Homo sapiens: one gene and its partner. The protein of the gene in region 2 purifies or fractionates together with the protein of the main gene of each other region. This does not show direct contact. Each region holds a gene or a part of one and is shown on either strand. Other genes may lie near its edges.

Region 1 (3,377 bases), on a different chromosome or scaffold from region 2:
CGCCCGGCTGCGTGCGGTCCAGCGGAAGGCCCGCTTTGCCAAGCTCAAGGTCTGTGTCTTCAAGGAGGAGATGCCCATCACCCCCTATGAGTGTCCGCTCCTCAACTCCCTGCGATTTGAGCGGAGTGAGAGTGACGGGCAGCTTTTTGAGCACCACTGTGAAGTGGATGTGTCTTTTGGGCCCTGGGAGGCTGTGGCTGATGTTTATGACCTGCTGCACTGCCTGGTCACGGACCTCTCGGCCCAGGGTCTCACCGTGGACCACCAGTGCATCGGGGTGTGTGACAAGCACCTCGTGAACCACTACTACTGCAAGCGCCCCATCTATGAGTTCAAGATCACATGGTGGTGAGTAGCCCCGGTAGGCGAGAGTCCCATCAGGGAGGATGTCCACCTTGCTTGGTGGCTCTGGGAGTAAGATCCCTGAAGGGGCTGCTGACTGCCCCAGAATCTGCCGAGGTGAGAACAGCATCCTGAGGCACAGCTCCCAGGGGACAGAGGTGTAGCTCCAATCTCCCTGACTGCACCTCAGGGTTGGGCTCAGGGCTTGCGGCCTGCAGGCACTCCAGCCAGCGCTCACCTGGCCTTTCCTCAAGGCATGGTAGTCTTTCCTTGAGGCTGATAGCTAGGGCTTGACCAGGAAGTCCCGAGAAGTTTTGTCACCTTCTTGACCTTGCAAGAGAGTTTCTGCCCATTTTAGAGCCACGTTACCAAATCGATGTAGGCCTAATCACTTCCTCAACCCTGTTCAAGCGTCCCTCCCTTGTGCTCAGTATATTGGTGTGAACACGGAACATGATGGGGGATTTACCTGACCAGCCACCCCATAGCCCCTGGCTGAAGAAGAAAGAGCATCTTCTCTCCCACTGCACCCCTTCTCCTCCAAGAATAGTTGCCCACATTCCCAAAATGTGGAAAGACTTTTCTTTTCCTTCCGGAACATGTTCTTCACCACCTTTTGGAGATTTAACCATAGCTGCCAAAGCTATGCACCCAGTTGGCCTTAGAAAACCACAATGTTTACAGCCCTGTCTTAGGGCCGCGGCTTCTCTTATCTTCCACCACCTTCCTTGCTTGCAGGGTTATCTTCTCACAGGGCTGGAATGCAAATTTCAGAGGCTTCTTTTGAAGATTCCCCAAGTCAAGCAGGCAAGATGCCTAGATCTTCTGTTATCTTTGACATGTAACATCCTTTTTAGAGGCTCAGAACACCTCCTTGGCTGCTATCTCATGTGTTAGAATCCAGTTTGTGGTGAACCTCTTTGGAAGGGGACCCCCTCTCTTTAAACCCTGTTCCTCTGTCCTGGTAACATTCTCCTTCTAGGAGAGCCTCTCTTCTGAGAAGGTAAAGGAAGGGCTGGGTGAGACACACAGCTATCCTAGGAGCCGTAGGAAGACAAAACTTCCCTTTTGTTTTACTCCTCACTCCTCTATTTTTGTTTTACTCACTTCTTTATATTTTGTTTTACTCCTCACTCCTGTATATTTTGGTTTACTTACTCCTCTATTTCAGAAATTGAAAAAGATCCCCAAGGATCTGTTACTACTGCATTTCCTTCTTGCTCTGTCTACAGCCTAGGCCAACTAGTCAGGGTCTGGACATGCATCTCCTAAAGGAAGAACTGTGTAGCACCATTGATCACAATGTAACATTTCCATGCTGCATTAAGGGTGTCTCTCTCTAATCATGATTGTACCTGTCTCTTCCTGGGTAAAGGGAGATTTTTTTTTTTAATGTGTAAAGAATTGATGCGAGCCAGGAACATGTCTGTAGTCCCAGCTACTTGGGCACACGCCTGTAGTCCAGGCCACTCGAGCACACACCTGTAGTACCAGCTACTCTGGAGGCTGAGGCAGGAGGATCACTTGAGCCCAGGAGATTAAGACTGTAGTATACTATGATCGTGCCTGTGGCTAGCCACTGTGCTCCAGCCTGGGCAACACCATCGTAAAAATAAATAAATAAATAAATAAATTGGGGAGGACAGCCTCACTGGTATCAGACTTACAGGACCAGATAGACAAGATGGGTATAAGGGGAGCTGAAGTCTGTGTTCATATGAGGAAGAGAAGACCAAGCCCTGGGACTTTGGCTGAATTCCTCCGTGGGGCTGGACGGCAGTGATCTCCTGTTCCCTATGTGTAAACAAAGATTCCAGGGCGTGGTTTTGCACTCCTGTTGTACTCTTTTAGAGGTGGAAAAGAGGTGGATACTGAGATCTAAGAGGAAAGGATAGTCATTCACGTTCTGAGATATGCGCTCTCTCTATTGTTCTCGTACACAAAGGGATAGTCTCTTTTCTGGAGCTGATGTCCCTGCTTGGAGGTTAGCCCCAAAACATGGCTCTTGTATTGTTCTAAGAGAAAAGGCTTTCATTTTGGTTCTTCTGATTGGTGTTACCTACTGCCTAATATGTGTTCATTTTTTGACAGAGAGGCAGACTATTGAAAAAGTCTGTGTGAACAGAGAGCAGTTCATTAAGCCCATTGCTTTCAGTAATGTGGCCTTGACCCCTTCTGCTTCCCCCTTCTCCCATGGAGCATGGCAGGGCTTGGTTATTTAGAGTCCATACATGCAAGCCATTGAGAGACTTGTTTGCTCAAATGCAAGTTTGCTCAAAAACAGGTCCTGAAGGCTTGCTTAGGATTACAGGGATGCTGGGTAAGAACACCGTTCCTCTCTCTCGCTGGAGAAATCCCTGTTTCTCTGACTCCCTTTGTGATCCTCACAGTAATGTATTCTGTGCCACTGTAGGACACAAGGCTCTGGGCCAGTAGAACAGGCAGAGAGGTGACACTGGGCAGCAAGCTGAGAGCTCTTTCTAAATGGAGTGAAGGAATTCAGTGGCCTAGTTTCGCCATTCTCTAATGAGAAACCAAGGCCAGGCTGAAAAGTGCAATTAGATGTGGTGGATTGTGGTAACGGCCTCCAGATAAAGGGGTTATCCCTGTGGAAGTGACTTTTCCCCATTTGATCCCTTTTCAACTCTAAATGGCCAGGCCCAGAACAGAAGAAGGGTTGGGTCTGGAAGGAAGGCTCCAAAGGATGAAAGCTTCTCCCTGATCATAAGGAAGTGCATCTTTATAGAATTGTTGTGCATAATGTCAGTAAATCCCTCTCACTTGACAAGGGACTGGATTCATCTTGCCTTGAGACGGGCCAGTAGTTATCAGTGAGTCAAAGCAAAGTGAAAGTTTCAGGAGATGGGACCAATGGTGCAATGCTCGCCATAACAAAATTCCTTAAAAATAAAAAAGCTAATGTTATAGCAACAAAAAAAGACTGAAGCAAAACCACACTGAAATGCATCCCACTCCAGGAGAGGAATTCTTAGCGTAACACTCTAAATAAATGGAAGGAATCATCACCTTCCTTA
Region 2 (5,590 bases):
GTCTTTCCTAGGATTTCCAGCTTCCTGAATCTCACAAAATACCCTCAAATTTTACCTCATTTAAGTCTCGGATTTCATTTTCTGCCAAAGAAAGTATAGCAAGACTTCTGGGTAGGTAAGCAGGTGCCATTCTAAGAGAGGTGATGATGTTTCCATGTAAAAGCAGGGTCTTGAAAGTAAAAACAGTATGAATTACAAATGAAAAGATTACAAATAAATTGGCCTATTGTGACAACACCAAAATGGTACATATAAGAATAAAGGAATCTACTTTATTATATTTCTCATCACACACAAATCAAAGACTGTTAATGCTACAAGGGTCCTTGATGATCTTCTGGTCCAACTCTCTGTTTTCATACCAACATCCTAAGCTCATGATATTTTAAAGACTTGTCCAAAAACACATGCTTGGCATAGCAACTAGGCATGCTGTGAGATTTAACTTATGAGACACTGAGCAATTTCTAACACACTTTTTCATTTTCTTTTAAAATATCAAAATAGAGGCCATGTGTGGTGGCTCATGCCTGTAATCCCAGCATTTTGGGAGGCCAAGGAGGGAAGATTGCTTGAGCCCAGGAGTTTGAGACCGGCCTGGGCAACATAGTGAGACCTGGTCTCTACTAAAAATCAAAAAATTAGCCAGGCATGATGAGGTGCACCTGTATTTCCAGCTACTGGGGAGGCTGAGGTAGGGGGATCACTTGAGCCCAGGAGGTCGAGGCTATAGTAAGCCATGACTGCACCACTGCACTCGAGCCTGGGTGACAGCAAGACTCTGATGTCTCAAATTAAAAAAAAAAAAAAAAAAAAGTCATTAAAACAACCACATATAAAGCAAATTTTCCAAAAAAGAGAGTGATAACCTACATCCATAATTGCAACTGTATTCTCTAGGTAACTAAAAAATAAAGGGAGGTAGAATGTGTTACTTGCAGATAAAGCTGACTCACATTAAGTCAGCAACAACCAAGAATAAACCCAAAACTGAACACCCAGGATTCTGATCAGATAAATAGGCTTCTATTCCAGCAAAAAAAAAAAAAAAAATTCAATCATCTTTGGTTCATTTGAATTCTCTTAGCATCTATTAGGACAACATCTGGCTACATCAAAATGTTTAGAATAATTATTGCTAAAAATGATTTCTGCTAAAGATCTGGGAAAAAGTGAACTAAGATACTGCTTCTAGGGCTTAATGAACATATCTGATGGTAATAATATCCAATGAGGCAACAATATTTAAAATGTTCTACATGTTTTTCAAGACTGTGATTTCAACTGTTACTTATTTGACTGCATGATACATTCCCCTCCATAAAAAGTGCTACATGCTACATGTTTTTTTCTAAGTGAAATTAATTTTGACAATTAGCTAATACCTATTACTTTAAAAACAGCAATTCTGAATGTCAAAAAAAAAAAAAAAAATCCAGACTTGGGACCCAGCGCAGTGGCTCATGCCTGTAATCCCAACACTTTGGGAGGCCGAGGCGGGTGGATCACAAGGTCAGGAGTTCGAGACCAGCCTGGCCAACATGATGAAATGCCATCTCTACTAAAAATACAAAAATTAGCTGGGCGTGGTGGCATGCACCTGTAGTCCCAGCTACTCAGGAGGCTGAGGCAGGAGAATCGCTTGAACCTGGGAGGCAGAGGTTGCAGTGAGCCGAGATTGCGCCACTGCACTCCAGCCTGGGCAACAGAGCAAAACTCCGTCTCAACAAAACAAAACAAAACAAAACAAAACAAAACAAAACAAAACAAAACAAAAAAACAGACTCGGCCAGTTCGGTGGCTCATGCCTGTAATCCTAGCACTTTGAGAGACTGAGGCAGGAGGACTGCTAGAGTCCAGGAGTTTGAGACCAGTCTAGACAACATAGTAAGATCTCATCTCTGGCCAGGTGCAGTGGCTCACGCTTGTAATCCCAACACTTTGCGAGGCCAAGGCAGGAGGATCATGTGAGGTCAGGAGTTCAAAATCAGCCTGGCCAACGTGGTGAAATCCTGTCTCTACTAAAAATACAAAAAATTAGCCAGGTGTGGTGGTGGGCGCCTATAATCCCAGCTACGCGGGACGCTGAGGCAGAAGTATCACTTGAACACAGGAGGCAGAGGTTGCAGTGAGCCAAGATTGCACCACTGCAACCACTGCTTGGGTTGCAGTGAGCCAAGATTGCACCACTGCTTGGGTGACAGAGCAGAACTCTATCTAAAAAAAAAAAAGAAAAGAAAAAGATCTCATCTCTACAAACACTCAAAAAATTAGCTGGGTGTGGTGATGTACACATGCCTATGGTCCTAGCTACTTGGGAGGCTAAGGTGAGAGGATCACTTGAGCCTGGGAGGTCGAGTGAGATTGTACTACTACACTCTAGCCTGGGTGACAGAGCAAGACTCTGTCTCAAAAAAAAATAAAGACAGACTCAAATTCAGGAATGATTAATCTCAACCTCACCAAAGATTATGTACTATATAATAACTGAAGTTACTAATATTGGTTGATTGGGCATACAGGGAATTCCATCATGTTCAGAGAATGGTAAATAAAATTAACCTTAACTACAATGACCAGTTTCACATCAAATAAATGAGTTATATAACTAACAACAAAAAGTTTCAAACTTAATTTCTGGTATTCTAACATAATTCCTTTTTTTTTTTTTGAGACTGAGTCTCACTCTATTGCCCAGGCTAGAGTGCAGTGACCCAATCTCGGGTCACCACAACCTCCACCTCCTGGGTTCAACCAATCCTGCTTTAGCTGAGTAGCTGGGACTACAGGCTCGCACCACTATGCCCCACTAATTTTTGGTATTTTTAGTAGAGATGGGGCTTTGCCATGTTGCCCAGGCTAGTCTTGAACTTCTGAGCTCAAGCCATCCACTCGCCTCAGCCTCTCAAAGTGCTGGGATTACAGGCATGACCCACCATGCCCAGCCCATAATTCTTATCATAAAGAAAGCAATCTGCTCATACAAAGCAGGCTAATTTTAGGTCAGTAAGATTACTTTCTCTTGGTATTTTGCTATAAAACTTCACAAATGACAAAGAAAACATACTTACTTTCAGGGATACCAATTTAGATAGATCACCTATCTGGGATATATTATTGTCTGATAAATCGAGATGCTGTAGAGCTGTGCAGCTATTGATCTGTTCCATGGCCTATCACAAGAAAAGCATCACACTATTTAATGAAAACAAAATCAAAAAATAAAATTATTCCCTAGTTCTTTGCAGCTGAAAGAGTGTCTTCCCTCCTCTTATTATTAGAAGCAGAGTAGAAGAACTTAGCAAGAGAAAAGGGGCAGTACTAACAGAATTTAGTAGATTGTCAGGTTGTAAACGTACACTTTCATTATCTCTCTATGAGTAGAGGGCTACCAAGTAGTTCATACCATCCAAGATCTTTACAGCTTGAAAAAAAACATAGTAATGGCCAGGCGCTATGGCTCACACCTGTAATCCCAGCACTTTGGGAGGCCGAGGTGGGTGGACAGCCTGAGGTCAGGAGTTCGAGACCAGCCTGGCCAACATGGCGAAACCCTGTCTCTACTAAAAAAATACTAAAAATTAGCCAGGCATGGTGGGCAGGCGCCTGTAATCCCAGTTACTCTTGAGGCTGAGGCAGGAGAATTGCTTAAACCCAGGAGGCAGAGGTTGCAGTGAGCCAAGATCGTGCCACTGCACTCCAGCCTGGACAATAAGAGCAAAACTCCATCAAAAAAAAAAAAAAAACAAAAGAAACCATAGTAATAATATATGACAGTTGGTGGTATAGAATAGAGTTTACAAGTTTAGATTAAAACCAAACAGCCTGGATTTACATTCTGGCCCTGCAACTTCCTAGCTGTGTGACCTTGAGCAAGTTACTTTTCTGTGCTTTAGTTCCTTCACCTTTATAACACGCATAATGTCTATATCTACTTCGCAGGCTACCATGAGATTGAATAAGTTAATACAGATAAATGTTTAGAACAGTAGCTCAGATACATTAATGGCTCAATAAAAGGCAGCTATTGGTAATCTAGTCCTCTCAGCTAGCATGCCAAAAAATAAGACGCAGAAATATGTATTAATTTACCCAAAATTACACAGTTACTAAGTAGTGCAAGTAGGACTAGAATTCAGATCTCCTAACTTTTAAAACTGTATATTCTCCCTTATAGCATTAAACATTTACTTAAAGCTTAATTCAGCATGATATAGTCTCCCTCCTAAACACTCTATGGTTTGATCTACTTTTTTCTAAGTACAATATAGATTCTTTGTTCAAATTTAAAAGAATATTATGTCATATTATATGTTTCAAAATGAGATTTATTTTTAGTTTATTTTAACAGAGATTATCCCTGGAGAGTGGGAGTGGGTACTTTCACTTTTTAATTTGACTTATTTCTACATTGCTTGAATTTTTTTTACGCAGAATAGTTTTGTAAACAAAAAAGAAACCATTCACCTTAAGATTATTTCCTGCCAAATTCAGCCATTCCAGATGTACTAGTTCCTTTAGCCCTTCCACACAGCCAATGCTATTATGAGGCAAATTTAATACACGAAGCAACGTCAGCTTGGCCACACCCATCATCCGAACCAGCCGATTATTAGCTACTGATAACTGTAAAAAGGAAACATATTGTTATTTTTAGGAATAACATATATAAAATATTTCACATTAAAGTGATTTAAAAGGTTTATTTAGACAGCCAAACACTCTCAAACAAACTCCTTTTGTACATTTCACATATATTGTCTAAATATTCTACAGTATGACTATCAGTTTTTTGTTATTGTTCCTGGGCAATAGAAAATACAGATAAAGCTGAGCGATCAGACCTCCTCTAACTACTAAGACATTTTTAACACAGCAACAACTTGAGAATGTAAGTTCCACAAGAATAGTGCTGTTAAACTCTCAGTCAAAACTTAATACAGTGCCAGACATATAAGAGGGACGCAGTAACCATTTCTTGAATGAAGGAATGAATGAACTCTTTACCCCCATCATGAGGTAAAAGGTTACCTTAGTAACACAGTATTTTGCAAAATAAAATGCTTCCTTTTCTTAACAATGCTTTTTTTTTCTAATCTACTCTCAATGTAGTACATGTATGTTCATCTTCAGAAGAAACTGTCATGTAAAAATTTAAGGCAACAATGACTGCTTGCTAGGGCTGCACAGTTACTTTTTGTCAGGTTATTTTATTGTTTTGTTTAATAATAAATTGATCCTATGTAACCATTTCCCAGATTGCAATACCTACCTGTATTAATCGTTTGCATTTCTCCAGATTTTCCAATTTAATAATCTGATTTTTATCCAGAATCAAAGTGTGAATATCAGCTTCACAGGGTAAATTTGGACCTAATTTCTGTAGTCCCTGTCCTGACCAATTGACCACTGATCCTTGAAAAGAAACGGAAATGTTAGAAAACACAAATAAAATAAAACATGTACAACAGCTAAGCATAGGGCTGGAATTATAAAATCTCTATACCATTTCAAGTTAAAGAACAGTAGAGCATAATAAATATCAACATTGTAAAATTAAAGCAATCTTGAGTTCTAAATGACCAGATTG

What was found. Proteins that work in one complex are often made in the same cells at the same time.
Region 1: the proteins of CEP97 (region 2) and KCTD7 purify together in Homo sapiens (affinity purification with western blotting, with the first as the bait; one study listed by BioGRID). This does not show direct contact.

Annotation. Positions count from the first base shown.
Region 1 is NC_000007.14:66,638,881-66,642,257, forward strand, and holds part of KCTD7 (BTB/POZ domain-containing protein KCTD7), read left to right. Parts: coding exon 1-352; 3' UTR 353-1,513; coding exon of another isoform or gene 1,514-1,514; 3' UTR 1,515-3,377. UniProt on the Homo sapiens protein: May be involved in the control of excitability of cortical neurons.
Region 2 is NC_000003.12:101,726,419-101,732,008, reverse strand, and holds part of CEP97 (centrosomal protein of 97 kDa), read right to left. Parts: intron 5,416-5,590; coding exon 5,273-5,415; intron 4,627-5,272; coding exon 4,468-4,626; intron 3,196-4,467; exon of another isoform or gene 3,174-3,195; coding exon 3,072-3,173; intron 170-3,071; coding exon 56-169; intron 1-55. UniProt on the Homo sapiens protein: Acts as a key negative regulator of ciliogenesis in collaboration with CCP110 by capping the mother centriole thereby preventing cilia formation. Required for recruitment of CCP110 to the centrosome.